Homo sapiens: one gene and its partners. The protein of the gene in region 2 binds, or shares a complex with, the protein of the main gene of each other region. Each region holds a gene or a part of one and is shown on either strand. Other genes may lie near its edges. The genes, in order: ISY1, XAB2, ISY1-RAB43 and PRPF19.

Region 1 (7,810 bases), on a different chromosome or scaffold from region 2:
CTTCAACCTCCACCTCTCGGGTTCAAGTGATTCTCCTGCCTCAGCCTCCCAAGCAGCTGGGACTACAGGTGCATGCCAGTACGCCCAGCTAATTTTTTTGTATTTTTAGTAGACATGGGGTTTCACCATGTTGGCCAGGATGGTCTCCATCTCTTGACCTCGTGACCCGCCCGCCTCGGCCTCCCAAAGTGCTGGGGTTACAGGCGTGAGCCACTGCGCCTGGCCACATCATCTCATTTTTCAAGAGATGTGTCTTTTAGAAAATTTGCATTTTTTAAAATTATACTTTGGTCTGCAAAAAATTGCATTTTTAAATGTTTGCCACTAATTGATTCTTCTCCCCTCAAAATGGCAGTGCAAGTCAAAATAAGACACAGGCAGCCAGTTCGCAACCTGTTGTATACACTCCACAATAAAAATAAATGGATCCACACAGTAGCAAAATATGTGTACAAAACCTACCAGGAAGACCAGGGACAGACCCCTACCCTCCGGTCAACATGAGACAAGGAGAGGGAAGGAAGGCTGAGAATGGGGCAGGAGCCCTTGCAGCACCAGCCTGTGTCTGCAGCCCTGGGTCCTGAGGTACCACTGGGGGATGGAAGAACTCCAAGGAGAGCCCCAGCTGGGTCCTAATACCCCAGGAGCCTTCTGGCTTCTTCACTTTGGGCCTGCAGGGTCTCGCTTGCATACTTCTGGAGGAGTTCCATTTTCTTCCTTCGCACCAGTGCCTCCTCAATCTGTGGAAATTAAGAGTGCAGGGCTCACTCCTCAGCAAAGCCCCTCAACCCCTGCCAGACCCAGCCAGGAGGAAGTCCCCGTGGGAGAAGTCCATCAAGGAGTCTGATTTAAATACGCAGAATAGTCTCCAAGAGTCCTAACTCCCTCCCATTGGAAACATTTGAACGATAGAATGGCCTAGAGCAGAGGGTCCTGCCCTTTTTGGACCCCACACCCTGAACACAATGACAGGTGTCATGTGGTCAGGACCCTGAGCTGCCCTGATGGGTAGGAAGGACAACGAAAACCCACTACAGTGCTCTGTGAAGTCTGCTTTAGAGAAGCCCCCGGCGCCCAGGCAGCTCTTAGCTGTGGTCCTACCTCTTGCTGCGAGGGAACAGGGACGTGAGCAATGAACTTCTGCTGGCTGTCGTCCCCTCCTTTCTCCTGGCTGCCTTCCTCGTCCGACTACAAACAGAACAAACGAAAGTCCATCAGTAGGCGCCCAGCTAGATAAATGCTGGCAACTCTATAAAACACACTACTCTGCAACTATTTAAAAGAAAAAAAAACTAAGAAAGTTCTATACTTATAGAAAGACACTTGACCCACAAGATTAAGTAAAAAAAGCCATAGAACACGCTGTATATTATGCTACCTTTTGTCTAAGGAGGAAATAAGAATAGAAATTACTGACGGCAGTGAGACCAAGGTAGATGAGGGACAGGGTGAGGAAAGAGAATCTTTGTGGAATATCTTTATATTCTTTTTCACTTTTGAACCTTGTGAATGTATCACTATTTTAAAAAATTTAAATGTAAAAGAATGTACCATGCATAGAAAAATAATCAGCTCAGAGGTTGCCTATGAGTCAATACAAATTTCTAATAACAAAGAAAACACCACGGACTTGGAAAGAGAGAAGGGGTCTTGTGGCGAGTCAGGAGTCCACTGTTTGCTGGGCTCTGCCAGACACCGTGCACGACCCATTCCCTGACTGGCTCCCAGTGGGGATGGCTTCAAAAGCCTCTTGAGGAACCTCTCATCCACTGCTGGCACTTGGAGAAACTGGTTGTATCTAACACTAAACACATACCTACCCTGATCTGGTGGTTCCACTCCTCAGCATGTACTCAAGAGAAACACTGCACGGGAACAAGAAAATTCCCAGCAACCCTATCTGCCAAAACCCCAATCTGGACACAACACAAATACCCACAAACATTAGACACAAAAGAGTACACACGACTCACATATGTAAAGTTCAGACACAAGTGAAATATATGGGTCACAAGAGGTCAGGAGGGTGACCCCTGAGGCAGTAGTGAGCTTCTGGCGCTGTGGTCCTGTTCTGTTTCTTCACTGGTATTTGCTATGTGTGTGTGTGTTCACCCTGTGAAAATCCAGTGACCTACACATTTAGCAGGTGTGTACTTTTCTGTATATGGAACAACACTCAGCAGTGAAAAGGAATGAACTATTGAACTCAACAACCAGAGGGATGGCAAGGGCATCATGTTAAGTGTCAAGGCCATCGTGAAAGGTGACTCACAGCATGATCCCATTTATAAAACATTCTGAAATGACAAAATCAGAGATGGAGAACAGGTTAGGGTTCAGCTAGGAGAAGAGATGGTGAGGACAGGGAGGTGTGAACTGTGAAGGGGTGGCACCAGGGATCTTTGTAGTAAGGGGACAGTTCCCAGGCTGGAGTGCAGTGGTGCAATCACAGCTCACTGTAATCTGAACCCCCTGAGCTCAAGCAATTCTCACACCTCAGCCTCCTGAGTAGCTGGGACTATAGGCATGTCCAACCACACCTAGCTAATTGTTTTTATTTTTGGTAGAAACAGGGCCTCATTGTGTTGCCAGACTGGTCTTGAACTCCTGAGTTCAAGCAATCCTCCCACCTCAGCCTCCCAAAGTATTAGGATTACAGGTGTGACCACCACCCCCGGCCAGTTCTGTATCTGGATTGTCATGATGGCCACATGGATCTCCACACATGGAGACAAATGACACAGAACTCCACACACTCAATATGCCAATGTCAACCTCCCAGTTTTACTACTGTGCTAGAACTACATGAGATACAACCACTGGGGGGAACTGGGTGAAGCATACACAAGATCTCTCTGTACTCTTTGCAACTTCCTGTATCTCTATAATTATTTGAAAAGAAAAAAAAATTCTGCTGTGGGTTTCCACTGCTCTTCCCCACAACGCCAGCTCCCCATCAGCCTCCACTCACACCCAGCACCCACTCTCTGCACTCCAGCACACTGGGCTGTCCTTTGTCTCTCACACTCATCACAGGATCTCTCAGCACATGATGCGCCCCTGCTGGGAGCCCTCTCTCATCTCCTCCTTCCTTGGTTAAGTTCGCTGGATCATCCTAATCTCAGCTGAGGGTTTAGCTTCCCAGCAGAGTGTCTGCAGGCTGTCCCTGCACCAGGCTCTATTGAGGGACTGTTGCTCACTGTCTCTCTTACTGGACTGCCTCCCCCTGGACTATGAGCTACACTCCAAGCCTCTGTACCACCATGCCCCTGCACCTGGAATGCGGCTGGCTCACAGGAGCCATGAATTAAACACCTGCTGAGAGAGCAAATGAATATTTGTACCTAGAGGAAATCCTCCTAAGGCATGCTGCCATCCTGCTTCAGACCTGCACTGAACCCCAGTGCTGGCCCAGCTGGACATGAGCAGGAACGTCAGGCCTGTTATATCCCATGTGACATTAAGTCACTAAACCTGAGCCTGCTTCTTCACCAGTGATGTCTCAGCAAGCTCCTCATGTGGAACCTGAGCCATCATCCATGTGTGGGTGATCCCCTCCCTTCTCTCAGTCCAGCAAATCAGATCCACCTAGACCTGTGCAGGCAGCAAGGACTCCAAATATAGGGCCCCGCAGAAGAGCTCTGCCTGGGAGGCAGAGATTTCAAATGTTGAATTTTCCTTGTTTCAGAATACCTCCTTTAATGCAGTGAAGTTTTGGTAATGTTTCATAGAAAAAATAAAAGGTGTAGCACAGACAGATATGTCAAGATTACTTACATGGTGGCTATAATAAAAAGTAATAACTAAGATATATAATGAGTATTTCCTATAAATCAGAAAATATGCAAAAGATCAGAAAATATGCAAAAGGTCTGAAAATATGCAAAGATTCCCCAACCATGACCCTCTAAGAAAGTTTCTTCTCTGCTCTGCGTTTCTTTCCATGTGTAAGACAGGGGTGTTAGGGCTGGGAGCAATGGTTCACACCTGTCATCCCAGCACTTTGGGAGGCCAAGGCAGGTGGATCACAAGGTCAGGAGTTCGAGACCAGCCTGGCCAATATGGTGAAACCCCGTCTCTACTAAAAATACAAAAATTAGCCATGCGTGGTGGCACTCGCCTGTAGTCCCAGCTACTTGGGAGGTTGAGGCAGAAGAATTGCTTGAACCCGGAAGGCAGAGGTTGCAGTGAGCCAAGATTGTGCCACTGCACTCCAGCCTGGGCAACAGAGCCAGATTCCGTTTCAAAAAAAATAAAAAAGATGGGGGTGTTAGACTACAGAAGAGCAACTGCCACTGACACGTGAACAGAAGTGATGAGGTCATGGGCTAAAGCTCATGGCTTCCTCTGTGTTTATCAGTCTAATTCTAGTGTATGCAGAAGGGCCTGTCTTTAAGAAGGAAAGAAGGAAGCCCTGGTGTAAAGCACGGCCGGCAGGGCACTCTCATGGCTGCTGCCTCCTGAAACCCTCCTGTAATCTCGCAAGTGTTTTCACAGCCATCCTGCAGGTGAGCAAGCTGGGCTGTGAACCCTGACTCTGTATTTGGGAGCCAAGTTTCCTCCCTGCCACACTTCATGGCTTGGAACAGATGGCAGTGAGTGCCAGAGGGGGCCAACCCCAATACCTCCTCCTCGGTGACTGCATAGATGTTGATCTCTTCCTCCTCTTCCTCCTCCTCTTCCTTTTCTCCTCTTGCCAGCCGAGCCTCTCTCTCTGCTTTCCACTTTTCCACTAACTCGGCTCTGACTGAACACAAGAGAGGGTAGGTGCTATTTATTTGTCTCTAAATGAGCTTTCAACACTATGCAGGGAAAGGCCAACACTATGCAGGGAAAGTCTAGACATCCCCTCTAGAAAGGGACACCCTTCATTCTGCCCCCGTGGGTGGAAATGGATGTGAAGCATGGTAGTCCTACAACAGCTCTGGCCTTCAGTCACTACAAAGCAGCTTTTTAGGGAACATTCCCAAATCCTCCCCACTTCCACAACCTGAGTGGATTCCCAACATGTCCACATGAAAAGAGAGAAGGCAGGGGCAGAGCATGCTAGAAAGCAGCTCCAGCTCCAGACCACTTGCTTCCAAAGTCCTGGCCTGATGTGTCACATGGGCACTGGTATTAGCACGAATCCACATGGTGACCTCCTAGCAGACAGGGACCGGTCAGACGTGGCTCTCATGGCTTCCCCAACCTGTTACCTCTGGCCCACACAGCTTTGACTGCCTCACAGGGGTCAGGGAATTAGCAGACCATCACGCCTGAAGATCATTAGCAACAAAGAAAACTCCCTTCTGGCATAAAGCACTATTGAAAATCCTGTTTTCAAAGGACACAACAGAAAACAGATGCCATCTATTATGAAATAAAATGCCCAGAGACCTACGTTTCTTTTCATATTCCTGTTCCAAAGGCACAATAACACCATCATCTTCATCTAGGTAACCATAGTACTCAAAATCGATTGCCTTCATGAGCTCAGCACGTGTCTTTCTGGGAGGAGGAAGAGCTATAAGAAACAGAAATGGAGCTGAGTTTCCAAGTCATAATCACACTCCAGCGAAGCTGTCTCCTGATGCAACGCTATACACACACGTGGCACGTATGTTCATGAAAATACCAGGTGGGCGCAGTGGCTCATGCTTGTAATCCTAGCGCTTTGGGAGGCCCAGACAGGTGGCTCACAAGGTCAGGAGTTCGAGACCAGCCTGACCAACATGGTGAAACCTCGTCTCTACTAAAAATACAAAAATTAGCCGGGCGTGGTGGTGCGCACCTGTAATCCCAGCTACTCAGGCTGTGGCAGGAGAATCGCTTGAACCTAGGAGGCAGAGTTTGCAGTGAGCCGAGATCACGCCACTGCACTCCAGCCTGGGCGACAAAACAAGACTCCATCACACAGAAAAAGAAAATACCATGGATAGACACTTTTCTATACTATTCATGGAATTATTTAAGTGGTAGAGCCCTTTTTAAAATCAGTACTTGGACCCATTTGTCCGTTTAAAAGCAATCTACCTAAGTAAAAAACAAAACCAGGCCGGGTGCGGTGACTCATGCCTGTAATCCCAGCACTTTGGGAGGCCGAGGCGGGAGAATCACGAGGTCAGCAGTTCAAGACCAGCGTGGCCAATATGGTGAAACCCCATCTCTACTAAAAATACAAAAATTAGCCAGGCATGGTGGTGGGGGCCCCTGTAATCCCAGCTACTCCTGAGGCTGAGGCAGGAGAATCGCTTGAACCCAGGGGACAGAGGTTGCAGTGAGCGAAGACTGCACCACTGCACTGCAGCCTGGGCGACAGAGCGAGACTCCATCTCAAAAAAAAAAAAACAAAAACCAAACACGAGATAGCAAAAAGCTTCATGTACAGAAATATGCATCACAGTATTATTTATATAATAGAGAAAACTTGGGAATAACCTATGATTGTAAATTGCAGAATATGTATGGGATGGGATATCCTGCAGCCCCTGTAATGCTATTTCACAAAGTATTTTAATAACACAGGAACTGTCATAATGTTTAATGAAAAAGCATGACAGGAAACATAAGTAAATAAAAAAGACAAAAGAAGCTAGAAACAAACAAAAAAGATACATGAGAAAGCCCTAAAGAAGATATTTTCAGACTAGGACTACAATCCAGAATATTTAAGTAATTCTTTTTTTTTTTTGAGATGGAATTTCGCTCTTGTCCAGGCTGGAGTGCAATGGCATGATCTTGGCTCACTGCAACCTCTGCATCCCGGGTTCAAGCGATTCTCCTGCCTCAGCCTCCCGAGTAGCTGGGATTACAAGCACCCGCCACCACACCCAGCTAATTTTTGTATTTTTAGTAGAGATGGGGTTTCACCATGTTGGCCAGGCAAGTCTCGAACTCCTGACCTCAGGTGATCCACCCGCTTAGGCTTCCCAAAGTGCTAAGATTATAGGTGTGAGCCACTGCACCCGGCTAAGTAATTATTAAAAATGAAAAACAAAATGACAACCAACCAGATTGGTGAAAGAATAAAAGCTGGCCAGGTGCAGTGACTCATGCCTGTAATCCCAGCATGTTTTTTTCTTTTTTTTGTGGGACGGAGTCTCGCTCTTGTTGCTCAGGCTGGAGTGCAATGGCGCAATCTCAGCTCACCACAACCTCCGCCTCCTGGGTTCAAGCAATTCTCCTGCCTCAGCCTCCTGAGTAGCTGGAATTACAGGCACGCACCACCACGCCCGGCTAATTTTGTATTTTCTTCTTCTTCTTTTTTTTTTTTTTTAAAGACAGAGCCTCGCTCTGTCACCCAGGCTGGAGTGCAATGGCGTGATCTCAGCTCACTGCAAGCTCCGCCTCCTGGGTTCACGCCATTCTCCTGCCTTAGTCTCCCGAGTAGCTGGGATTATAGGCACCTGCCACCATGCCCAGCTAATTTTGTATTTTCTTCTTCTTTTTTTTTTTATTTTTTATTTTTTAATTTTATTTTTTTAGACAGAGCCTCACTCTGTTGCCCAGGCTGGAGTGCAATGGCGCGATCTCAGTTCACTGCAAGCTCCGCCTCCTGGGTTCACGCCATTCTCCTGCCTCAGCCTCCCAAGTAGCTGGGATTACAGGTGCCCGCCACCATGCCCAGCTAATTTTTTGTATTTTTTTTTAGCAGAGACGGGGTTTCACCATGTTAGCCAGGATGGTCTTGATCTCCTGACCTTGTGATCCGCCCGCCTCAGCCTCCCAAAGTGCTGGGATTACAGGCATGAGCCACCGCACCTGGCCTAAAAAAATAAAAAAATTTTTAAGGCCGGAAAGGAACATACCAAACAGATAATAATGGTTA
Region 2 (7,810 bases):
AAGACTTGAGGGCAAGGGCCAGTCCCTAGTGGGGAACAGACAGTGGGTGCCACCCCAGGGAGGCGGCAGCTGCCTGGGGCCACAGAAGGGCTCTGAGAGGCAGGGGCTGGCGAGACCTGGGCAGCCAGGGGCTGGATTGCCCTTCCCAGGCTACAGAGGCTCAAGGAAGTTTCCGGGCAGGACCCACTCCAAGGCCCCAGGCAGCGGAGGGACTGGCCTCTCGAGTCCAGAACTGGCTCTGCGGGGTGAGGCCGGGCAGTATCTGGCCTGGGGCCCAGCCGCCCCACCTCCCACAGCAGCCAATCCCGGCCCAGGGCCAGGCACTCCTGAGCTGTACTCCCTCGGGCACCTGGGCAGCAGGAAGGAGGCTCAGACCATGATGTACAAACGTAGCTGTATTGGGGAGGGGGTGGGGAGGGGGGATGGGGGAGGGACGGGTCAGTCTTCCTTCAGGCTCCCAAACACTGCGGCTGGCACGCTCTGCTGCTCCAGCCGAACCTCTGTGGGGAAGGCGGGAGCCAGTCACCCTCCTGGCGTTGGCCTGTCCCCCGAGGCCCACCCTGGTAATGCCACCGTCCCCGCCCCAGCCGGGCCCTCACCGTTGGGCTCCAGGTCCATCTCGTCCTCGTCCTCGTCCTCGCCCAGCTGGATCTCCTCGGGGTTGACCTGCTGTGCCAGCTCTGCCAGCTCCTCCCGGGAGGCGTCACTCCTAGGGACGGGCCATGCTGCCTCAGTTCCCCACCCCGGGCCCCCTTGGGACCTGTCCCAGTCCTGTCCCGTCCAAGGATCCGCCCTCACCTCACGAACAGGATCTTGCTCTGGGCGCGCAAGGGCTGGTCACGCTCCGCCTCAGCCGCCAGCTGCTCTGCCCGCTGTTCCAGCAGCTTCATGTCGTCCATGCCACTCTGCCCAGGGGCCAGGTCAGACACTAGGGGGTGGGAGCAGGGGGTCAGCGCCACGGGGGCCCCTCCCACACATCGGACGTTGCACTATCCCAGTCCCCCAGGTGATGGCCCAGCCCTCAAGGAGATTGCCATCAGGATCCGAGGCTCCCAGACCCGGAAAGCCCAGGTCAGGCCGGGCTGAGATGCCCTGGATCAGGAACTCAGCCAGCTGGGACGGCTCACCGGTGCCCGTGGCACTGCCCGAGACCTTGAGCATCTGCGAGGCCATGAAGTTGACCTGCGTGTTGTACGTGGCCTGCACGCTGCGCCGGATACGCAGCATTTCCTTGATGGTGTCCTCATTGCCATGCCGGACCTCAAAGTCCTTCCACGTCTGCCAGAACGCGCCGGTCGTCTGCGTGGGGGGCAGGGCAGGGGTGGGTGTGTGTGCCCGTGAGCTGGCTGACTCCGCCGCAGCCCCCAACCCTGATACCCGTCCCTCCCCACAGCCCTACCCGGGGGTCACAGATCTGGGAGCAGAAGCTGTAGATGGCCCGGGCGCGGTCAATCTCCCCGAGCTTGCACTCCATGTCTGCAAACCGCAGGCACATCTCACGCGCGTGCTCGTCCGACAGCACCTGGACACCGGGGTTGGGGAGGCCGGGAGTGAGGCCGGGGTAGCTCGGGGGCTCCCAACACACCATGGCCATCCCTGTGCTTCCAGAAGGCTCCTCCTCAGCCCCTCCCACCTGCCTGGACCCCTTCCGTCTGCTCAGGGACCTCTGGCCCCGGCCCAGCCCCCCACGGTGGGTACCTCAATGGCCTTCTGGTAGATGCCGCGGGTGTGGGTGACCCCATAGATCTCGGCCGCCCGCTTGATGTAGATGTTGAACATGTCATACTGCTGGGCGGGCTCCACGGCCCTGGTGGCACGCTCGTACACGGCCATGGCATGCCGGGCCAGGCCCCACTCCTCCTCCAGCTGTGCGTACAGCAGGTACAAGGCTGGGCGGGGTAGGCGGGGAGAGGGGAGCACGGTCAGCCGGGGCCAGTCAGAAACCCAGCCCGCCCGCCACCCCCCCCATGCCCTCTGCCCGCCTCACTCTTGGCATATTTTGGGGGGCAGCCGTCCAGAGCCTGTTCAAACAGGTCCCGTGCCCGCTCCAGCTTGCGGCCCCCATAGCGGGCAATGAATTTGGTCAGGTAGGTGCTCCAGATGTCGGACACGTTGGGCCACTTGAACAGCGAGATGCCGCGCTCGTACGCCTGTTACCAGAGGGAGAGTCACATGTGAGAGTCTGCAGATAGAGACCACCAGGCACCCGGGATGTCCTTGGGTGGCGTCTGTAGGGAGCCTGCCAGGAACTCCCTTGGGGCCCTTCCCTGTCCACGCCTCCCTGTCCCTAATGGCAGTTGTGGGGGTCTGTCCTCTGCACTGTCTCCCTCTGTGAGAACCCCAAGAACAGGGGTGCAATGGGACCTGCTAAGCACAGTCTGGCCCCATAGGAGGTGACATGATGGGTGAAGGTGGGTGGCTCCCCAGCTCCGCTGACGCTGGCTGCCTGTCCCCAGGGAGAAGGCCGCACCCCCTGACAGAGGGGCAGGCAGTAGCACGCGTATGCATGTACGACCTCCCCATTTGTGTATCTGTATAATGCCCACACGATCCATAGAAACACACACTCAAACATGACTGCTCCGGCCGCGGGACATGGCCTTCCCACGGACACGCAACCCACCCCCTGGACCCCACAACCCGTCTCCTGAGCAGCGGGGCAGGGAGAGCCCGCACACACTGGCACCAACACCCTCCCCATGAGTCATGGGTGCACGTGGAAGTAGGATTCTGTGCCTGCTATGGAATGAACTGTGCCCCCCTCAAAACATTCATATGCTCAAATCTTAACCCCCAGTACCTCAGAAAGTAGATTCGTTTGAAGATGAGATCACTAAGTTAAACTGAGGTCGTTAGGGGCCACCTAATCCATTATGACTGATGTCCTTTATAAGAAGAGGAAATTTCAAAAGTGACACACACAAAGAGAAGGCCACACAAAGACATAGGGAGAAGGCGGCTGTCTGTAAGCTAAGGAGAGAGGCCTCAGGAGGAACCAGCCCTGCCCATGCCTCGATCCTGGACTTCCAGCCTCCAGGACGGGGAGAAGCTAAATCTTTGTTGTTTAAGTCACCCAGTCTGTATACTGTGTCACACAAGCCCCAGCAGATTCGTAAGTTGCTGAGGACCCCTGGGGAGGGGACACTGCCATCAGGGGCCTCTGGGTCCACCCTAGCCCCTCACCTTGAAGCTCTCCTCGAAGTACTTGTGCTCCTCCAGGAACATGGCATAGTTGATGACGATCTGGGGTGTTGCGATACGCAGGTCCAGGATGCGGTCGTACACGGCCTTGGTGGACTGCAGGGGTGGGGATGGGAAAGGTTGGAGCTGGTTCTGGAGCTGAGTCCGGGGCCCCGTCCCTCCCCAGCCACAGGCAGCTCACCTGGAAGGTGCCGAGGCTCTCCTCCAGGTCGGCGAGCATGGACCAGACCTTCAGTGACTTGTACACGCGGTTCTGCACGGGCTCTGAACCATCAAAGTACTCGGCCCGGCGGGCAGGCAGCGCCGTGGCCTTCTGCAGGGGCAGACAGTGGCCGGGGAGGCGCTCAGGGGCTGTCCCTGGCCCTTGCCCTACAACCTGCAGCCCCCACCCCACAGCCTGGGCCTGTTCTCACTCGCAGCAGCCGCAAGGCCTCATCGTAGTTCTCGTGTCGGAGCTCCAGCTCTCCGCACTGACACCACACGCTTGCCAGGTCATCCACCTGCTTGAAGTTCACCTTGGTGGCCTTCTCCAGGATGACACGGGCCTGCCGGGGCGGGCAGAGGCGAGGCTGAGACCCTGCCCACCTGGACAGCTCCCACCATCAAGGGTCAGAAAGGTGACCATGCTCACAAACATACAGGCACAAACACACAGGCACACACACAGGCACACACATGCGTGCACATATGCATGCACCCAAATGCACATGCACACACACGTGCACACATCCATGCACAAATATGTACACACACATACATGCACACATATACAAGCACACACACATGCATGAACACACAGGCACACGCAACAGGGTGCTCACATCGTCCAGCTGTCCGTTGTCCTCATAAAACTTGGCAAACGCCACCCACAGAGTGTGGGGCTTGCCTGTGGCCTTGAAGGGGTCCACCGTCTGCACAGCCTCTGTGTAGGTGTTGATGATCTGGGGACAGGAGGGAGGAGGTCATATAGGACTCAGGACCCTGCAGATGACGGTCGGGGCAGAGCTGTGGCTCTGAGGGGTGGGGCCTGGAGGGTGCTGTGGCCCCTGTCGGGAGAGGCCAGAAACGAACTATGGCCCTTGACAATGGTCAGGACCAAGAGAGAGCTGTGGCCCTAAGGGGCGGGGCCAGGAGAGAGCTGTGACCCTCCAAGGGGCGGGGCCACGAGGGAGCTGTGGCCCTCCAAGGGGTGGGGCCAGGAGGGACTGTGGCTCTGAGGGGCGGGGCTCGGGCAGGAGGAGAACCCCAAGAACAGGGGTGGAATTGGACCTACTAAGCAAAGTCAGGCCCCTAGAAGGTGACATTATGGGTGAAGGTGGGTGGCTCCCCAGTTCTGCAGGAAACTGGCCCTCAGGGGTAGGACTGGGGCAGGCTTCATGTACCTCCCGGGGGCGGCCCTGGTGCAGGGCGACACGCTTGTGCCACTCGTGCACGTGGTGTGGGTTTTGGCGCAGCAAGACGCTGTTGAGGAGCAGGGGCCGCCGGCTGATGAGCTGCTCGAAGCGGGCCAGGCGCAGCTCCAGGTCCACATCATCTGGGAGCCGCGAACATGTTTGTCAGGGGCGGAGACCCAGGATGCAGGTCCCCGGATGCCACCGCCTCCACTCCCCACCCTCACTCCGCTCCAGCCCCCAGCCAAGTGCTCTGGGCCCTAGACACTCAGCTCGGGTGTCCACCTGAGCCCCACCCCCAGCCCCAGGTACTGTGGATACCCCCTCCTACCCCCACTGTTCCCCTAGCCCTCCTGCCCTGCCAGGCTCTGGCCCAGGCCTGAGAAGTGTCCCCATTCCTGGCTCCTTCAAGACCCCCACACCCCCTGCATCCACTCAGCCTCCTTCCCTGCTGGCCCCCAGCTGAGCCTCCCAGGGCTGCCTCACCTGAGATGTGTCCCGCCCCTACCGCTAATGTCCACTCAGCTCTCTCCCCACCAGCCGGGGCCCCCAGAGGCTCACCCTCCTCCTCGCGCCCCAGCTCCGAGGCGGTCTCCATCTTTGCAGCGATCATGCTCTCCTCGAACTGGGCGTAGCTGTCAAACACCTGTGTGAAGTCCCGCACGGTCATCACTGTCCGGATGGCCTCCTCGTACACGTCCCGAGCCTGTGGGGACCCAGGGAAGGGGAGGTGAGAGGAAAGTGGCGCAGGGGACAGGCAGCAGCACTCTTAGCACCAGCCTCAATGTGGAACCCCTGGGGGCCTTCTGGGTAGTGACGCATCCAGCACCTCTGGGTAGTGACCCCAGGACAGAGCCTCCGTGGAGCCTTCTCACCCCCGCCCTGCCCTGCACTGCCAGGGTGGTCTTGGGAGCTTCAGGACCTCCTCAGTAAACTGGGTGACTGCCCTTTGCACACAGTGACCTCAGGGCTCGACTGAGACACATGTGTGAAGCACTTGGCACCCAATAGGTGGCCAAAAACCCCCCAGCGCCTATGGGTCCACCCTGCAGGGACCCTCGCCTCAGCTCATCCTCCGAGGCCTCAGAATTTGCTCCAAAGCGTCCCTCTCGCTTGCCTGACCCTCTTCCCCAGCCCGCCTGTCCTCCACCTGGCTCGCCCACCCCAGCTCAGGTCCCCTCTCTCTACCCAGCCCTGACGGGTCTTGCCCTGCTGCCTCCGACAGCCTTGGCCTACACGTGCCCCTGGAAGGGGCGCTGCGAAGCGCATACCGCCCACACCCCACTGGCGGCTCCCCCAGCCAGGAGCATGGCCAGCCCGTTTGGCTTTCGAGGCTCCCAACCTATCTTCCCTGGGTTCCTGAGCCTCCCCGCTCTCGGCTCTGGCCCCCTCTGCACCCACCTGCCCCCAGGCCATCCCCTGAGCTTGCCACTCCACTGCCTGCCAAGAGCCACAGTCAGCTAACCCCTGAGGGAGTGGCCCTCACACCACGTACCTCCTCAGTGCTGTGCCTGCGTCACTGAGCTGATTGGTGACAGGCAGTAACTGTCACCCTGATTTTACAAATGAAGACACCCCACCTTAGTGGGGCCAAGGCCGCAGAGCCAGAGGGTGAACCCTGAACGCAAATGTGGCTGACTCCAAGGCTGACGTGCCTGCGGGCAGGAGTGCTCCCCCACCCTCAGCAGGATAGTAATCGTGTGCAGGGATATGCATGTCTGTCAAAAATGGCACTTTTTTTTTTTTTTTTTTTTTTTGAGATGGAGTCTCGCTCTGCCACCCAGGCTGGACTTCCGTGGCGCGATCGCAGCTCACGGCAACCTCCACCTCCCAAGTTCAAGCGATTCTCCTGCCTCAGCCTCCCGAGTAGCTGGGATTACAGGCGCGCACCACCATGTCTGACTAATTTTTGTATTTTTAGTAGTGATGGGGTTTCACCATGTTGGCCAGGCTGGTCTTGAACTGCTGACCTCAAGTGATCCTACCGCCTCGGCCTCCCAAAGTGCTGGGATGACAGGTGTGAGCCACCACACCCAGCCATAAATGGCATGTTTTCTGCCTGTGCATGTGTCAACATGTGTCCCCGAGTGTCGGAGGGAGACCCCGCCCCGAACCCAGAGCCCCGTGTGCCAGCATGCACCTTCTCGAAATGGCCGCTGCGGATGTAGTAGTCGGCGAGAGAACACCAGAGCTTGCCCAGCTGGTCGGTGAAGCGGGTGAGGCCCCCGCGGATGATGGCGTCCACATTGAGGGACTGTACCTTGTCCGGATTCTGGGAGATGAGGTCGCACAGCTCGTGCCACAGCTGCAGGGCATGGGGCAGTGGGGGAGAGTCTCAGGCTCAGTCATGGAGGGGGTGGCCCTCCCACCCAGTTGCCGGCTCCCGGCAGGCCCACCTGGTAGTTGGACTTGCCGGCCTTAGACACGAAACGCTCGTCGTTCACCACGGTGGCCAGGCGCTGGGCGGCCTCATCCAGCCGGTCACTTGACTTGAGGTACTCAATGTACTCCTCTGCACTCTCAGGACTCAGCTGGGGACCGAGCCACCCCTCAGGCAGTCAGTGGGGTGGCAGGGCTACGCCCACCTCCCGATTCAGTGGCTTCGGGGCGTCCCCCCCCACCCATTTATGAGTGTCTTGGGCAAAAGCAAGCCCTGTCAAACCAGCCTCAGCCCCACTGGTCCAGCCCGGTTCCTACTGGTCTAGCCTTGGCCCCACTGGGTTAGGCTCAACCCCCTGTGGGTCCTGCCTTGGCTCCACTGGTCCAGCCTCAGTCCTGACTAGACCAGCTGTGGACTTTTTGGGTTAGCCTTGACCCGCAAGGGCACAGCCTTGACTGCGGTGGTCCAGTCTCAGCCCCAATGGTCCAGCCTTGGTCCTTTTGGGTTAGAATTGACCCCCAACCCACAATGGGTCCAGCCTTGGCTCCACTAGTCCAGCCTCAGTCCTGACTGGTCTAGCCTTGGCCCCTTTGGGTCAGCCTTGATCCCATGGGTCCAGCCTTGACTATAGTGTCCAGCCTGGGCCCCACGGGTCCAGCCTCAGTCCTGACTGGTCCAGCTTAGAATCCAAACGTCATAAAACAGATACTTTAAGTTTGAGCAAACCATGCCCCACTCCCGCCCGGCTGGTGCTTCCACTCTCCACCCTGCCTGCTTCTCCCCACCCCTATTCCTGGCCCTCTTCATGGCTGTGGTTTTACTCTAGTTCATGCCATCA
Region 3 (7,810 bases), on a different chromosome or scaffold from region 2:
CTGCACTCCAGCCTGGACGCCAGAGCAAGACTCCATCTCAAAAAAATAAATAAATAAAATTAAAATTAAAAAGATTTATACCTAAGTTATTTCTTGTGTTTTGGTGCTTTTGTAAATAGCACTTTAAAAAAATGTTGTATTTCCAGCTGTTCAATGTTAGTATATAAAAATATAATTTTGAAGCTGAGCATGGTGGCTCACACCTGTAATCCCAGTACTTTGGGAGGCTGAAGCAGGCAGATATCACTTGAGCCCAGAAGTTCCAGACCAGCCTAGCCAACATGGTGAAACTCTGTCTCTACTAAAAATACAAAAATCAGCCAGGTGTGGTGGTGGATGCCTGTAGTCCCAGCTACTCGAGAGGCTGAGGCAGAATAGCTTGAACCTGGGAGGCAGAGGTTGCAGTGAGCCGAGACTGGGCCACTGCACTCCAGCGTGGGTGACAGAGGAAGACTCTGTCTCAAAAAAAAATATATATATATATAAATATATAAAATATATAAATATATAAAAATATATATAAATATATAAAAATATATATATGAATATATATGGGGTGTGTGTGTATATATATAATTCTGTATATTGAACTTCTTTTCTGTGATCTTGATAAATTCACTTATCCATTTTAGAAGTCTTTCTGTAGGTTCCTTGGGATTTTCTACATAGAAAATTATGTAGGATTTTAGGTGGGCATGGTGGCTCATGCCTGTAATCCCAGTACTTTGGGAGGCAGAGGCGGGTGGATCACCTGAGGTTGGGAGTTCGAGACCAGGCTGGCCAACATGGCGAAACTCTGTCTCTAGTAAAAATACAAAAATTGGCCGGGCATGGTGGCACATGCCTGTAGTCCCAGCTACTCAGGAGGCTGAGGCAGGAGAATCGCTTGAACCCAGGGGACAGAGGTTGCAGTGAGCCGAGACTGCACCACTGTACTTCAGCCTGGGTGACAGAGCGAGACTCCATCTCAAAAAAAAGAAAATTATATAGGATTTTCTATGTTACAATAAAGACAGTTTTACTTATTATTTTCTAATCTTTATGCCTTTTATTTCCTTTTTTTACTTTACCGCACTGGCTAGGATTTCCAGCATCACGCTGAATATAGTGGTGAGAGTGGATGTCTTTGCCTCGTTCCTGATCTTAAGAGGAAAGCATTCAATCCTTCACCATTAAATAGTTTATTGGCTATGGGTTTCTTATAAGTACTTTATCAGGGCCGGGTGTGGTGGCTCATGCCTGTAATCCCAGCTCTTAGGGAGGCCAAGGTGGGTGGATCACCTGAGGTTGGGAATTCGAGACCAGCCTTGCCAACATGGTAAAACCCTGTCTCTACTGAAAATACAAAAATTAGCTAGGCGTGGTGGCTGGCACCTGTAATCCCAGCTACTCGGGAGGCTGAGGCAGGAGAATCACTTGAACCTGAGAGGCGGAGGTTGCATTGAGCTGAAATTGCACCACTGCACTCCAGCATGGGTGACAAGAGCAAAACTCCGTCTCAGAAAAAAAAAAGAAGTGCTTTATCAGGGTAAAAAGTTCCCTTTTATTCCCAGTTTGCTGAGTTCTTATCATGAATAAACGTCTAATTTTGTCAAATACTTTTTCTGCATCTACTTAGATCATACAGTTTTTCTTCTTTGGAATGACACAGTGAATTAACTTATTTTTGAATGCTGAATCTACTATGTTTTTCCAGAATAAATCCTCCTTAGTTGTGATGTATTATCCTTTTTATACATTGCTAGGTTTTGTTTTTTTTTTTGAGACGGAGTCTCGCTCTGTCGCCCAGGCTGGAGTGCAGTGGTGCAATCTCGGCTCACTGCAAGCTCCGCCTCCCGGGTTCCAGCGATTCGCCTGCCTCAGCCTCCCAGGAAGCTGGGACTACAGGCACCTGCCACCACGCCCGGCTAATTTTTTTGTATTTTTAGTAGAGACGGGGTTTCACCGTGTGTTAGCCAGGATGGTTTCGATCTCCTGATCTCACGATCCACCCACCTTGGCCTCCCAAAGTGCTGGAATTACAGGCGTGAGCCACCGCGCCCGGCCATACATTGCTAGGTTTGATATGCTAATGTTTCATTAAAGATTTTTGTCTATATTCATAGGAAATATTGTCAGTAGTTATTTCTCATAATATCTTTTTCTGATTTTAGCATCAGGGTAATGCTGATACTAAAATTCACAAAATGAGTTACAAAGTGTTCCCTCTTCTTCCATTTTCTTGAGGAAACTATGTGGAGTTGGTATTATTTCTTCCTTAAATATTTAGTAGAACTGACCAGTGAAGCCATCTGGGTCTGGAATTTTCTTTTAGAAAGGTATTTAGAAATGAATTCAATTTCTTTCCATCTTTTTTTTTTTTTTTTTTGAGATGGACTGTCGCTCTGTCACCCAGGCTGGAGTGCAGTGGCCCAATCTTGGCTCACTGCAACCTCTGCCTCCTGGGTTAAAGTGATTCTCCTGCCTCAGCCTCCCAAGTAGCTAGGATTACACGCATGCGTCACCATGCCTGGCTAATTTTTGTATTTTTCATAGAGACAGGGTTTCACCATGTTGGCCAGCCTGGTCTTGAACTCCTAACCTCAGGTGATCCACCCACCTCCACTTCCCAAAGTGCTGCAGTTACAGGCGTGAGCCACGGTGCACAGCCCCAATTTCTTTAACAGATATAGGACTACTCAGGTTTACCATTTCTTTTTGAACTGTGTCTCTAAACAGTAGAATTATTGACACTGTAGTTTATTTAGGATAATTATTTGTAGGAGGCTTAGCACATCCCTGGCCTCTACCCACTATGTGCCAGTAGCACCCTTCCAGTTGTAACAATCAAAAATTTCTTCAGGGCTGGGCGCAGTGGCTCAAGCCTGTAATCCCAGCACTACGGGAGGGTGAGGTGGGCAGGTCATGAGGTCAGGAGATCGAGACCATCCTGGCTAACATGGTGAAACCCCGTCTCTACTAAAAATACAAAAAAAAATTAGCTGGGCATGGTGGTGGGCGCCTGTAGGCCCAGCTACTCAGGAGGCTGAGGCAGGAGATTCGCTTGAACCCGGGAGGCAGAGGCTGCGGTGAGCCAAGATCATGCCACTGCACTCCAGTGTGGGCAACAGAGCAAGACTCTGTCTCAAAACAAAACAAAACAAAACAAAATGAACTATTTCTCGGCCAGGCACTGTGGCTTACACCTGTAATCCTAGCACTTTGGAAGGCCGAGGAGGGTGGATCCCCTGAGGTCAGGAATTGAAGACCAGCCTGTTCAACATGGTGAAACCCTGTCTCTACTAAAAAATTACAAAAATTTGGCTGGGCGCCATGGCTCACGCCTGTAATCCCAGCACTTTGGGAGGCCGAGGCGGGCGGATCACGAGGTCAGGAGATCGAGACCATCCTGGCTAACACGGTGAAACCCCATCTCTACTAAAAATACAAAAGATCAGCCAGGCGAGGGGGTGGGCGCCTGTAGTCCCAGCTACGCGGGAGGCTGAGGCAGGAGAATGGCGTGAACCCCGGGGGGCGGAGCCTGCAGTGAGCTGAGATGGCGCCACTGCACTCCAGCCTGGGTGACAGAGCGAGACTCTGTCTCAAAAAAAAAAAAAAAAAAAAAAATTAGCCAGGTATGATGGAGGGTGCCTGTAATCCCAGCTACTCGGGAGGCTGAGGCAGGAGAAATTGCTTGAACCCAGGGAGGTGAACCCAGGGAGAAATTGCTTGAACCCAGTGCAGTGAGCCGAGAACTCGCCACTGCACTCTAGCCTGGGTGACAGAGCAAGACTCCATCTCAAAAAAAAAAAAAAAAAAAAAAAAGGACCACTTCTCTTAAGTGAGCTTTGGCAGTTTGTGTCTTGTAAGGAATTGACCTATTTCATCTAAGTTGTCAAATTTATGGGCATAACATTGTCTGTAATATTTCCTTATTATCCTTTTAATGTATATAGATTCTATAGTAATATTCCCAATTTGGTTCCTAATATTCTTAATTTGTGTATATTTTTTCTTGGTCAGTCTGACTAGAAGTTTATCAATTTTATTGATCTTTTTTTTTTTTTTGAGACAGAGTCTCGCTCTGTCTCCCAGGCTGGAGTGCAGTGGCGCGATCTCAGCTCACTGCAAGCTCCACCTCTTGGGTTCATGCCATTCTCCTGCCTCAGCCTCCCAAGTAGCTGGGATTACAGGCGCCTGCCACCACATCCAGCTAATTTTTTGTATTTTTAGTAAAGACGGGGTTTCACCGTGTTAGCCAGGATGGTCTCGATCTCCTGACCTCGTCATCCGCCCGCCTCGGCCTCCCAAAGTGCTGGGATTACAGGCGTGAGCCACCACGCCCAGCAATTTTATTGATCTTTTCAAAGAACCAGCTGTTGGTCTGTTTTCTCTATTCATCTTGTTTTCAATGCTATTGATTTCTTATCTTTACTATTTCCTTCCTTCTGCTTGCTTTGGGTTTAATTTGCTCTTCTTTTCTAATTTCACAGGGTAGAAGCTTAGATCACTGATTTGAAAACTTTCATAATTTTCTATTATTTCAGTGCTATATATGTATTTTTTGTTTGTTTGTTTGTTTGTTTGTTTTGAGATGGAGTCCTGGAGTGCAGTGGCACGATCTTGGCTCACTACAACCTCCGCCTCCCGGGTTCAAGCGATTCTCCTGCTTCAGCCTCCTGAGTAGCTGGGATTACAGGCACATGACACCACACCCAGCTAATATTTGTATTTTTAGTAGAGACAGGGTTTCACCATGTTGGCCAGGATAGTCTCTTATCTCCTAACCTCGTGATCCACCCGCCTCGGCCTCCCAAAGTGCTGGGATTACAGGTGTGAGCCACCGCACCAGGCCAGTGCTATACATTTTTATCTAAGCACTATATCCCATAAATTTTTTCATCCCCTAAATTTTGACATTACGTTTTCACTCTAATTAAATTCAAAATATCTTCTAATTTCTTTGCTGTTTCCTCTCAGACACATGAATTATTTACAAATATGTTGTTTAATTTCCAAATATTTAGGAATTTTTCAGATATGAATCTGTTGTTATAATCAGAGAAAATACTCTGTGTAATTTCAATTTTTTTTTTTTTTGAGATGGAGTTTCACTCTTGTTGCTGAAGCTGGAATGCAATAGTGTGATCTTGGCTCACTGTAACCTCCGCCCGTTAGGTTCAAGCGATTCTCCTGCCTCAGCCTCCCAAGTAGCTGGGATTACAAGCATGCGCTACCACGTCCAGCCAATTTTGTATTTTCAGTAGAGGTGGGGTTTCTCCATGTTGGTCAGGCTGGTCTCAAACCCCAGACCTTAGGTGATCCTCCCTCCTCGGCCTCCCAAAGTGCTGGGATTACAGGCGTGAGCTACTGCGCCCGGCCTCAAATATTTTAAATTTGCTAACATTTGTTCTGCAGCCCAGAATATGTTTTATTTTGGTGAATGTTCCACGTGCTCTTAAAAAAGACCATGTATTAGGCCGGGCATAGTGGCTCATACCTATAATCCCAGCACTTTGGGAGGCTGAGGCGGGCGAATTGCAAGGTCAGGAGATCAAGACCATCCTGGCTAACATGGTGAAACCCTGTCTCTACTGAAAGTACAAAAAAATTAGCCGGGCGTGGTTGTGGGCACCTGTAGTCCCAGCTATTCGGGAGGCTGAGGCAGGAGAATGGCGTGAACCCAGGAGGCTGAGCTTGCAGTGAGCCGAGATCGCACCACTGCACTCCAGCCTGGGTGACAGAGTGAGACTCTGTCTCAAAAAAAAAAAAAAAAAATGACGTATTCTTTATTGTTAGGTACAGTGTTGTGAGACAGAGTATTCTACAACTTTCAACTACATCAAACTGACTGATCGTATTGATTGGCTCTTCTATGTCCTTACTGATTTACTATCTACTTGCTCTATTGATTATTTTGAAAGGAGTATTGAAGTCCTCAAGTCTAATTGTGGATTTGAGAATCAAGCACTTTAAAGGAACAAGTTTGCTTACCATTCTGAATCTGAGCCACTTTTTTAGAGATCTCTCCAATGATCTATTAAAAAAAAGTAATACATTTTAATAATTTTTGAATATGTTAGAAAGCACAGAAAAACTATAATTCAAAATTAGTATTTAAAAATACTTAGACTTTTGGTCTAACAGTCATTTAGATAATAAGAAGAAATGAGAGACTTGTTACTTCTACTGAAATCAGATTTACCCAGAACATACCTGTCGTCTCCACTTCTCAGCTTTAGGCAGTTCAGTACATTCTGAGGCCAGAAAGGGTCTTCGTTCCTAAGGAGAAAAAAATAACACATTTCCATTATACTATTTACAAGTTTCAAACAACATTCAGAACTGATTCAGGCCTTAAGCCTAAATCATCTAATGGCCTAAAAACATTTGAAGTTTTCATTCCAGATGATCCTCATCAAGCCTTAAACCTCATTCTACAATCTCTCCTTAGGAAAAACATTGATTGCATTGTATTTAATATTGGAAAGAACTTAACTGTCCTGCAATAGAGAGACAGCCAAACTAGGTTATAGCTATTTCATGGCATATTTATAGTACCTTAAGAAACAATGTCTATCAGTGTTTAAAACAAACATACATAAATATGGGTGTATTCATATACATGTGCGTATATAAAATTAAAAAAAAAATCCAAAGAATGGTATATATTATCTCTAATTTGGGTGAGTCTCTAAGAAATGAAATAATTTACCGGTTTCAGCTTACAGCTGTTCTCCACATCATACTCCAGTCCCTATTCAATATTAGAGCTGGAGTAATAAAGGACCCAGTCATCAGGCTGGGCACGGCGGTTCATCTCTGTAATTCCCACTTTGGGAGGTCAAGGCAGGCAGATTGCCTGAGGCCTGGAGTTTGAGACCAGTCTGGCCAACATGGTGAAACCCCATCTCTACTAAAAATACAAAAAAATTAGCTGGGTGTGGTGATATGTGCCTGTAATTCCAGCTACTCAGGAGGCTGAGGCAGGGGAATTGCTTGAACCAGGGAGTTGGAGGTTACAGTGAGCCAAGATCACGCCACTGCACTCCAGCCTGAGCGACAGAGCGTCCATCTCAAAAAAAAAAAAAAAAAAAAAAGGGCCGGGCCCAGTCATCATAATACAGAAGAAACTGAAAAACAAGCAGCCAGATCCATCACCCTGCCTCAGCTATGGGGAGGTATTGGAATTCAAGTGTACAGACTCTCAAGAGCGTCAGCAGGTACAGATAAGAAATAGGAAATTCTGAAGTTTGAAGTCTGTTGACCTGGAGTGCAGCAGCGCGCTCTCGGTGCACTGCAACCTCCGTCTCCAGGGCTCAAGTGATTCTTCTGCCTCAGCCTCAAGTAGCTGGGATTACAGGTGCCTGCCACCATGCCCAGCTAATTTTTGTATTTTTAGTAGAGATGGGGTTTCACCATGTTAGCCAGGCTGGCCTCAAACTCCTGTCCTCAAGTGATCCACCCCCCTCAGCCTCTCAAAGTGCTGGGATTACAGGCGTGAGTCACTGCACCCTACTTTTTTTTTTTTTTTTGACAGGTTCTCACTGTGTCACCCAGGCTGGAGTGCAGTGGCATGATCATGGCTCCCTGCAGTGTAAGACTCCTGCATTCAAGTGATTCTCCTGCCTCAGCCTCCCCAGTAGCTGGGACTACAGGCAGGCGCCACCATGCCTGGCTAGGCTAATCTTTGTATTTTTTGTAAAGAAGGGATTTTGCCATGTTGCCCAGACTGGTCTCAAACTCCTAGACTCAAGTGATCCACCCACCTCAGCCTCCCCAAGTATTGGGATTACAGGCATGAGCCACTGCACCCAGCCTGCATTTATTC
Region 4 (8,358 bases), on a different chromosome or scaffold from region 2:
AGTACCCAGTGGAGTCAGCCCTTGGGGAGGGGATGCTGCCTCCTATCCCAGAGCCTAGACCAGTATCAGTGACCCAAACAATATCCGAGCAAACACGAATGTGCCGGCAGACACTCTTGAGCTCCTACCCCAAGCGAACCACTGGGCACACAGACAGGAGTGGGAGCCAGCTCTTTCCCATCCCCACCTTCCCTAACTTACTGGCAAATCCCAGCTGTCATGCCGTCCCCTCTCTAAAAGAGAATAACAACACTGCTGCTGCTGCTATTTATTGATCGCCCTCGTTGTGTCAGGCACTGTGCCAGACAGTCCTGCAGGATGTATTCAATCATTCAATTCATAACTCTAGAGCACCTACTATGTACCAGGTGCTGCTCTCAGTGCTGGGGATACAACGAAGAATAAAACAAATCCCTGATGTCACAAAGTTTACCCTCTAAATAATGCTCCATCCTTCCTACCCCCAAGTCCTAACCCAGCAATGCATTCTCTTCAAGTGGGGAAGATGCTGATTCTCTTGCAGGAACTCACCCACTCATCCTGCAAAGCTTTCAGAATGGCCGGGATGCTGGTGGCTGAGGGAGGCTTGGGCCGGATTGGGTGAGCAACTGCCGAAAGGGAAAGCAGGTATGAAGAACATAACCCAGGGGCCTCCCCCGCCATCACATCTTTTCCTTTTAGCCATAAACAGCCCACCATCTCTTCCTCCAGTGCACTGGCACCACCTCCCATCCTCTCAGGCTCTGAGCTAAGATGGCCCTAGACTAAGGCAGCCAATAGGCACCTTTGATGTCGATGAGCTGCTCCTCGGAGAGAGGCTGGTTGTTGATGGGGTCGGTACCATTCTCCGCAATGTACTTCTCGATGAGCCGCCGCTCATAAACATGATTAGAGACAGGGGATACACATGGGTGCTCCGGCACTTCGTTAGAGACTGTAGAGAAAAGGCTGGTAGTGAGCTTGGAGTGAAGGCAATCTTGGGCCTAGAGGATTCCTCATCTGCTATTAGCCCCAACAAGACTAGGCATCCTCACACTCAACTAGCAGAAAGCAAGACATTTGACCCTAAGCCAGTTCTGTACTGGCCCCAGAATGCTTTCCAGCTATGGAACTACCTTTTCCTTTAGTCTCCTGACTGAGGAGATAGTCTCCTGACTATCTGACAATCATATAGTCAACAAATAATTATTAACAACTACTATGTGCCAAGCACCTAGAGAATAGCAGTCCATTATCACCACCTCATATCTGAACAATGATTGTGTACTCTATGAATACAGTTTACTCCATGACATGGAGATACACATGAAGCCATTCAAATCCCTGCCATCCATCTTAGTCTATAGCTCCAGACAGATTATCAAAGAAATTATAAAGTCTGAGAATACAGGAATAACAAACTCAGTTTCTCCTATTCTCTGACAAAACAAAATACTTCTGTGACCTCAGATGTGACCATCTGGGTGTCCTCCAATTCAATTCTGACACCAGGTACCTGGAGATAGTGTCAGATCATACAGGTTGAGGTCTCAGTCCCACCAGACTCCCCGCCCCTTCAGATGCCAATCGCAAGCCCCAGGTTGTTTGACCTGTTCTTCTGATCTACCAGCTGTAAATCAGGGTTCCCATGACCTCCTTTTTGGGTTCAATTAATTTGCAACAGTGACTCAAACAATTGTGGGAAACACTTATGTTTACCAGTTTATTGTAAAGGATATTACAAAGGATACAGATGAAGAGGAGCATAGGATGAGGTATGGGAGAAGTACAGAGCTTCCCATGCCTTCCCTGGGCACCCCACCCTCCAGGAACCCCCACATGTTCTGCTATACAGAAGCTCTTTGAATCCTGTCCTTTTGTATTTTTATGAAAACTTCATTACAAAGGCATGATTCAATAAATCACTGGTCACTAGTGACGACTTCAGTTCCTCTCATTTCCCCAGGTAAATGGGGGGTAGGACTGAAAATCCCAACCTTCTAATACCCTTTAGTCTTCCTAGGTGACCAGTCCCCATCCTGAAGCTATTGAGTCTACCAGCTACCAGTCAACTGATTAGCGTACAGACACTTATCACCTGGAAGATTCCAAGGAGCAAAGTGGCAATCGCTACAATAAAAATATTTAAAAATATTTACATGGCACATTTGCATGGCACATTTCTATGTGCCAAGCACAATTCTAGGCATACAGTACAGTAATTCATCTTCACAACAACCCGCAATAGAGGTATCATTTACACTCTTGCCTGCGTAGACTGTGCACCCCTTGAGGATAAGGATTACAGCTGGTCTCTCACTTCCAGTACAATGCAGATGCCCCCAGGGCACTCGGTAAACATCTAACAAATGAGTGAACCATGCCAGGAAGGATGGTGCTGGGGAACGTAAAAGAGAGCTTCCCGAAGATTGGAAGGAAACAATAAATGTGAAGGTACTTTGCGAGCTGTAATTTCTTCAAAGTGAGGGATTCCTTTTCCATCATTTCCCTTCCTTCTTCCCCCTCTTTGGATCAATGTACAGGTTCTGAGAAGAGAAGGAAGTGAATAGCAAAAGGGAGGGGAAACGAGTAATCTGATGAAACAACGAAAAGGGAAAGGAAAATGTCTGTACGTCATGATAAAATATCAAAGGGAAAGATAGTGGAAGGTATGAAAAAAGCATGGATTCAGGGTCCAAGATCCGTGTCACCTAACTACGTCACCCAGCTCTGCCACTGACTAGCTACGCATCCTTAGATAAGCCCCGCTCTTCCTGCGCCTTGCATCCTCATCTGCAAAACCAGGATCTTTATTTCTCCTTTAGGGAATTCTTGTGAGGATAAAATGAGATCATAGACTTGGAAGCGCGTTGTAAACCAATAAGGGCTTATAAATGTGCGCTGTTTTTATTAGTCATACAGTGTAAGGCTGGGAGCCAGATACCTGGCTGCCAGCCTTGCCTCTACCTCTAACTCATCATGTGACCTTTGCAAATTGCAAAAGCTCCGACTATCCGAGCGAGGCCTCGCAAAACATCCACTGCAATGCTCTCGATTTTGCAGATGGGGAAACCGAGGCCCAGAGCCTTGAGCCAATTCATAAAGCCAATGGGAGGCGGACCCTGGACAAGACCTCGAGTTTTCTGACTCCTACATTAAGGCTGCTTCCCTTGCACCAGCTCTCTCTGTCCAGACCTGTTTCCACTCTGTAGAATGAGGCGACCGGCCTCAGTAATGTCTGCGACAATAAACCTCAGGCACTATGTAAACTGCGGGGCACTGCGCAAATGCACCCCGCTCCGACGGGGGGGGCTCCGGTGCTGACAGGCCGCCGCTCGGCCTCCGGAGCGCCCCATTCCCGCCTCCACCCCGGCCCGGGCGCCGCAGCGGACCGCACACGCTCCCGCGCCGCTCTCTGGCCTCCTGAGACCCGCGCTTGGCCGCAGCCAACACTCACTGGAGCAGATTAGGGACATGGCGCCGTCACCGTGCTCCGAGGCGCCACACGCCGGGCTCCGGGACTAGCTTCTGAGCCTCCGCGAGCCACTTCCGGTCCCCCGCTGCTGCCGGGACTGCTCCGCGGCGAGCTGGGAGCCGCCAGCCGAGCGATGCTAGCGTAGCGCTTCACGTGGGAATGGGGACAGCCGCGCGCCACAGCCTTCAGCACCTAACGGAAATTGCCCTTTCCCAGAATGCAGCCGGGCAGGAAAGGGCCCGCCACGAACACTCGGTTATTTCCGGATTGACTCGGCTCGTTCCGTAAAGCGCCGGAGGATTGGCTGGGGCGTCGGGAGAGAGGAGGCTCGAAACTACATTTCCCATGACGCAGTGAGAATTTAAAACCAAAACAATTGGACAGCACTTGTTTTGACAACTGTGCGGCACTGTGCCACGGGACCCTGGTCTTTGAAACCTTGGCGTGCGCGAGAATTTCCCAGTGAGTTTGTTAAAATGCAGATTCCTCGGGTCTGCGTAGACAGACTGTGCCCCACGCTTTTCTAAGTCAGTTGTTTCTCGGGCTACCCTTTAAGAGACACTGCTGGATGGCCTGGTGAAGAAAATACAGAAACAGATGGGTACAAGAACTAAGAAAACGGCTAAGAAAGTGTTTTGGTCCTGACTACTACCATTTCGCTCTGTGATTTGGGGCAATTCACATTGCCCTTTCTTCTTTGTCAAAAGACAAAATCACAACAAACTTAGTTCAAAGATTTTTTTTTTCTTAAGAGACGGACTCTGGCAATGTTGCCCAGGCTGGAAGGCAGTGGCTATTCACAGGTGCGGTCATAGCAATCATGGCTATCACAGGTGCATCCTGGAACTCCTGGCCTCAAGTGATCCTTCTGCCTCAGCCTCCGGAGTAGCTGGGACTTAAGGTGCGATTCTATAGAATTGGGCAGTGCCTCATACTATAAAATATAATGGTTGTTCCAATGAGCTGAACAGGAGAACTTGGTTTTATAGACAGAAAAGGACTGAGGAAAACAGGAACAGAGAACAAAAAGCGGATTGGTCATTTGGTAATTTCAAAATTACTTTTCTTGTAAAGGTTAAAGTGGAGGGGACTTATCATGCCACCTAAAACTTGCCTGTTTGGGAATTTAGCTCCCCCCTACACACACACACACACACACACACACACACACACACATACACACTCAGAAGGTCGTAAAGATCTTCGTTTCAGCTTATTGGCGTGGAGCTTCAGCAGGACTAACTCTTTTTAGCTTGGTCTGTTAGGCCTAGCAGAAGAGCTCAGTCCAAACCAATGGCCTCCTATAAATTTCTTTATTTTGTATTTTGGATTTTGTATTTTCTATTTCTCTTCCAGCTCAGATAGTGTATGATTCTTTGTGGATATCTGTAAGATAAGATACTCTCAGGAATCATGCAAAAGACGTGGTGTGGACTGTAAGGTATCAAGACAAAAGGGCAGGATGAACAGGATGTGAGTGAGAGGGACTTTGACAGGTGGGCAGTATTCAGAGGAGAAGGAGAACGAAAGGCATTCCGGAAGAAGAAACAACGTAAGCAAAAGCTTGGAGAGAAAAATAAAAGTTACAGGTACAAAAGGCAATATGGCATAGTGGCCAAGAGCATGGACTCTGAAGTCAGACTGTGTGCTCAAATCCTAGCACCACTCAGGTGATTGGCAGTATGAACTTCTCTATGCCTTAGTTTCCTCATCTGTAAAACAGAGGGAGTGATGACAAGGGTAGAACTAACTCACTGAACTCTTATGAAGAGTTAATATGCAAAAGGGCATCTCATCTCTGTCTTGCACCAACAAAGTAACTTCCCACTTGTTCCTTGCTTCCAGCCTGGCCTCCTCCTCCTAATCTACTTTCCACAGAGCAGACAGTGATCCACTTTGAACGAAATATCTATTCATGTTATTCCCCAGGCATTTCATTCATCCAACAAATATTGATTGGGTGCTTCCTATGTGCCAAGCCCTATTGTAAAAACTGGAGATAGAAAAGGTCAACAAGAAAGACACAGTTTCTGCTGTCTTGGAGCTTACACTCTACTGTGGGTGGTGGGAGCACAGAGACAATCAACACTTAAGAAGAAAATTCCAGAGTAGTAAGTGCTATGAATACAACAAATCAGAGCAAGGTAGACAGAGGTGCTGGGGATTGGAGGAACGGCTACTTGAGGCAGGGCACTTAGAGAGTGCATCACTGAGGAGCTGATTTTTTTGCTGAGAACTGAATGAGGGTATGGAGCAAAAAAGTTTCCCCTCTGCCCTCTAAAGATTTGCTGAAATTAACTGACAATCGACAGAATAACAGGAGAAAAGGCATACAAGTGTATTAGTGTGTGAGTGTGCACAGGAGTAATACAAAATATGAGGCTCAAAGAAGGAACAGGTGGCTGATGCTTACTTAAATGGCACCCAGGAAAGACGGAGATGGGGGAAATGTAGGCAATTTTGAGGGCTAGCAAATAATTTTTAGGGAGGGCTAGCAAATAATTTTTAGGGGAAATGAATGAGCCCCAAGAACAAACAATGCCTTGGGACAAAGTTCTTATGAGCTCTGGAGGAGGTGGCAACAAATTGTGGGAAGGTGAGGGGCAGAACTCCATTGTGAACAAAGGTTGTCTTATTATGCACATAAGGTCTCTCAGGTAATCTGTTAGAGCTCCCATCAGAAGAATAGATTAAAAGTCTCTCTAGGTGTAGTGGTGAGTTGGTGACTTTTAGTTTTTATTCTTCTCCAGTGGTTAATCTTTCCTGGTTATTTGATGAGTTTCCTGTGGAGGGAGATTTGAGACAATTGCATTTCTTCTGAAAGAAATTTTCTCAGTCAGATAAGGGAACTTCTAGAGAGAGCTTCTCCCTGTACTTAGGGTGGGGGTCAGGGGGCAAGAGAAGGTTAGAAAGTCCTTGGTTCTAAGGCAGCTTCTAAGACCTTCCCATTTCTTTTCATTCAAAAGTGCTCAGCATGCTGTAACCTCAGGACCAATCCAAACTGGGCCTACTCTTTTGATAACAGAATGTCATGTTCTCTTGTAGGTATGACAGAGCCAAAACTCCAAGTCATGTCAGTAGGGCATGCCCAATAGAAAATGCTTTGACATCTAACAACACCCAGAACCAATGATTCCTCCCTGTGGTACCAAGAAGACCTAGACATGATCGGAACCTAAATGCTGGAACTCTTTCAGGAGCAAAGGGTCTGTTGACCAGAAAGATCCAGGGGTAAAATCCACCTCAACATACCCGTGTAGTCAAATTTGACACCCTCCAATCAGACCCTGCCAAGCCAAAATTCCTAATACGTTTCCTTGCCATCTGTATTAGTCTGTTTTCACGCTGCTGACAAAGACATACCTGAGACTGGACAATTTACAAAAGAGGTTTAATTGGACTTACAGTTCCACGTGGCTGGGGAAACCTCACAATCATGGCAGAAGGCAAGGAGGAGCAAGTCACATCTTACATGGATGGCAGCAGGCAAAAACAAAGAGCTTGTACAGGGAAACTCCTGTTTCTCAAAACCATCAGACCTCATGAGACTTATTCACTATCACAAGAACAGCACAAGAAAGACCTGCCCCTATGATTCAATTATCTCCCACTGGGTCCCTCCCACAACATGTGAGAATTCAAGATGAGATTTGGGTGGGGACACAGCCAAACCATATCACCCTCTGACCCCTTAAATCTTGCCCCAGACCCCAAATTAGGAGACAGATGTGAGCCATGCCTCCAGTCTCCTTGCTGGGTGGCCCTGCAATAAAGCCTTTCTGTTCTCAAAAGCTGGTACCATAGTATTGGCTTCTATGTGCATCAGGCAGTGAGCCTATTTGCTCAGAAACAATACTAAAGCACCATACTTTGGGGTATCATTCTCTGAGCCCCAACCAGGGGTCATTCCTGAGGCCATGAATGAGGGAGAGAGTTTCTGGCTGAGGAAACTTGCCCGTAAGTCTTGCACCATCTGGCCCATGCTGACCATCACAGTCTCACTTTATCTTCTTTCCAGCCACATTGGCCTTTCAGTTCCTCAAACATACCCGCGCTGGCTGGTTTCAGAACTTCTGCCTGGATCACTGTCCTCTCCCCCCTCCCTCTTCCCCCTCCTGTCTCAAACCCTCCAATGTAAACTTCAGTCTCACCTTAAATGTCACTTCCTCTGGAGCCCTTTTCATGGTCCCTGGTTTAAATTTAGTCCATACAGCAAACTGTGATTGTCCTCCAAACCACTTCAAAGAACTGTAATCATTTAATTATCTATTTATAAGTATCTGATGTCTGGGTTCTTCACTAGACTGTAAACTTCATGATGGCAGGAACCATAATTGTTCTGGTTACTCTTGCTCTCAAGAGTGTAAGAGTGCCACATTGTGCCTGGCACATAGCAGGAACTTTATGATGATTGTTGGTTGGAAGACAGGTTGCCTGACAGGCCAGTCATCTCAACTACTGTACTTGGATGTGTGGTTGGAAATAAAATGGATCCGTTTAGGAGAGGCCTTGAACCCAAGGTGGTAAAACTTGGGTGGTGATTGGGCTGGCAGCACAACAGCATGTGTTTGCATTTGAGCTATGGAGTGATAACCATACTTTCAGAAGTTTCCTCTGGAAGACACTTACTGGATGGGTTGGAGTGGGACAGACTAGAAGGAGGGAGACTCAGTAATTAATTGTTGAACCAATCTTTATTGAGTACCCATAGCGTGTCAGCCCGGCACGATACTAGGTGTTGGTAGTATCACAATGAGCAAAACCAGAGGTGTCCCTCTACTGGGGAGTTTATGGCTATGATAGCAGGATGCAGGAAAAAGGAAGTCCTGTCAAGGCTTTTCCGTTTCATAAGCCAGCCCACAGGGAATAGAAAAAATTCAGGGCACTTGGTTTCAGAGAAACAG

The links.
Region 1: XAB2 (region 2) and ISY1 share a complex: the UniProt entries of both Homo sapiens proteins name them as parts of the XAB2 complex.
Region 3: XAB2 (region 2) and ISY1-RAB43 share a complex: the UniProt entries of both Homo sapiens proteins name them as parts of the XAB2 complex.
Region 4: XAB2 (region 2) and PRPF19 share a complex: the UniProt entries of both Homo sapiens proteins name them as parts of the XAB2 complex.

What each region holds. Positions count from the first base shown.
Region 1 is NC_000003.12:129,129,449-129,137,258, forward strand, and holds part of ISY1 (pre-mRNA-splicing factor ISY1 homolog), read right to left. Parts: intron 7,749-7,810; coding exon of another isoform or gene 7,683-7,748; intron 5,507-7,682; coding exon 5,384-5,506; intron 4,748-5,383; coding exon 4,626-4,747; intron 1,189-4,625; coding exon 1,102-1,188; intron 741-1,101; coding exon 633-740; 3' UTR 1-632. Other genes in the region: ISY1-RAB43 protein, read right to left, coding at 640-740, 1,102-1,188, 4,626-4,747, 5,384-5,506. UniProt on the Homo sapiens protein: Component of the spliceosome C complex required for the selective processing of microRNAs during embryonic stem cell differentiation. Required for the biogenesis of all miRNAs from the pri-miR-17-92 primary transcript except miR-92a.
Region 2 is NC_000019.10:7,619,148-7,626,957, forward strand, and holds the end of XAB2 (pre-mRNA-splicing factor SYF1), read right to left. Parts: intron 7,124-7,810; coding exon 6,989-7,123; intron 6,898-6,988; coding exon 6,733-6,897; intron 5,299-6,732; coding exon 5,154-5,298; intron 4,736-5,153; coding exon 4,584-4,735; intron 4,143-4,583; coding exon 4,023-4,142; intron 3,747-4,022; coding exon 3,615-3,746; intron 3,515-3,614; coding exon 3,383-3,514; intron 3,298-3,382; coding exon 3,184-3,297; intron 2,151-3,183; coding exon 1,988-2,150; intron 1,890-1,987; coding exon 1,699-1,889; intron 1,523-1,698; coding exon 1,400-1,522; intron 1,300-1,399; coding exon 1,128-1,299; intron 929-1,127; coding exon 799-928; intron 710-798; coding exon 600-709; intron 501-599; coding exon 439-500; 3' UTR 378-438; downstream 1-377. UniProt on the Homo sapiens protein: Involved in pre-mRNA splicing as component of the spliceosome. Involved in transcription-coupled repair (TCR), transcription and pre-mRNA splicing.
Region 3 is NC_000003.12:129,150,660-129,158,469, forward strand, and holds part of ISY1-RAB43 (ISY1-RAB43 protein), read right to left. Parts: intron 6,262-7,810; coding exon 6,196-6,261; intron 6,017-6,195; coding exon 5,974-6,016; intron 1-5,973. Other genes in the region: pre-mRNA-splicing factor ISY1 homolog, read right to left, coding at 5,974-6,016, 6,196-6,261. UniProt on the Homo sapiens protein: Component of the spliceosome C complex required for the selective processing of microRNAs during embryonic stem cell differentiation. Required for the biogenesis of all miRNAs from the pri-miR-17-92 primary transcript except miR-92a.
Region 4 is NC_000011.10:60,902,928-60,911,285, forward strand, and holds the start of PRPF19 (pre-mRNA-processing factor 19), read right to left. Parts: upstream 3,659-8,358; 5' UTR 3,456-3,658; coding exon 3,437-3,455; intron 935-3,436; coding exon 785-934; intron 609-784; coding exon 532-608; intron 1-531. UniProt on the Homo sapiens protein: Ubiquitin-protein ligase which is a core component of several complexes mainly involved pre-mRNA splicing and DNA repair. Required for pre-mRNA splicing as component of the spliceosome.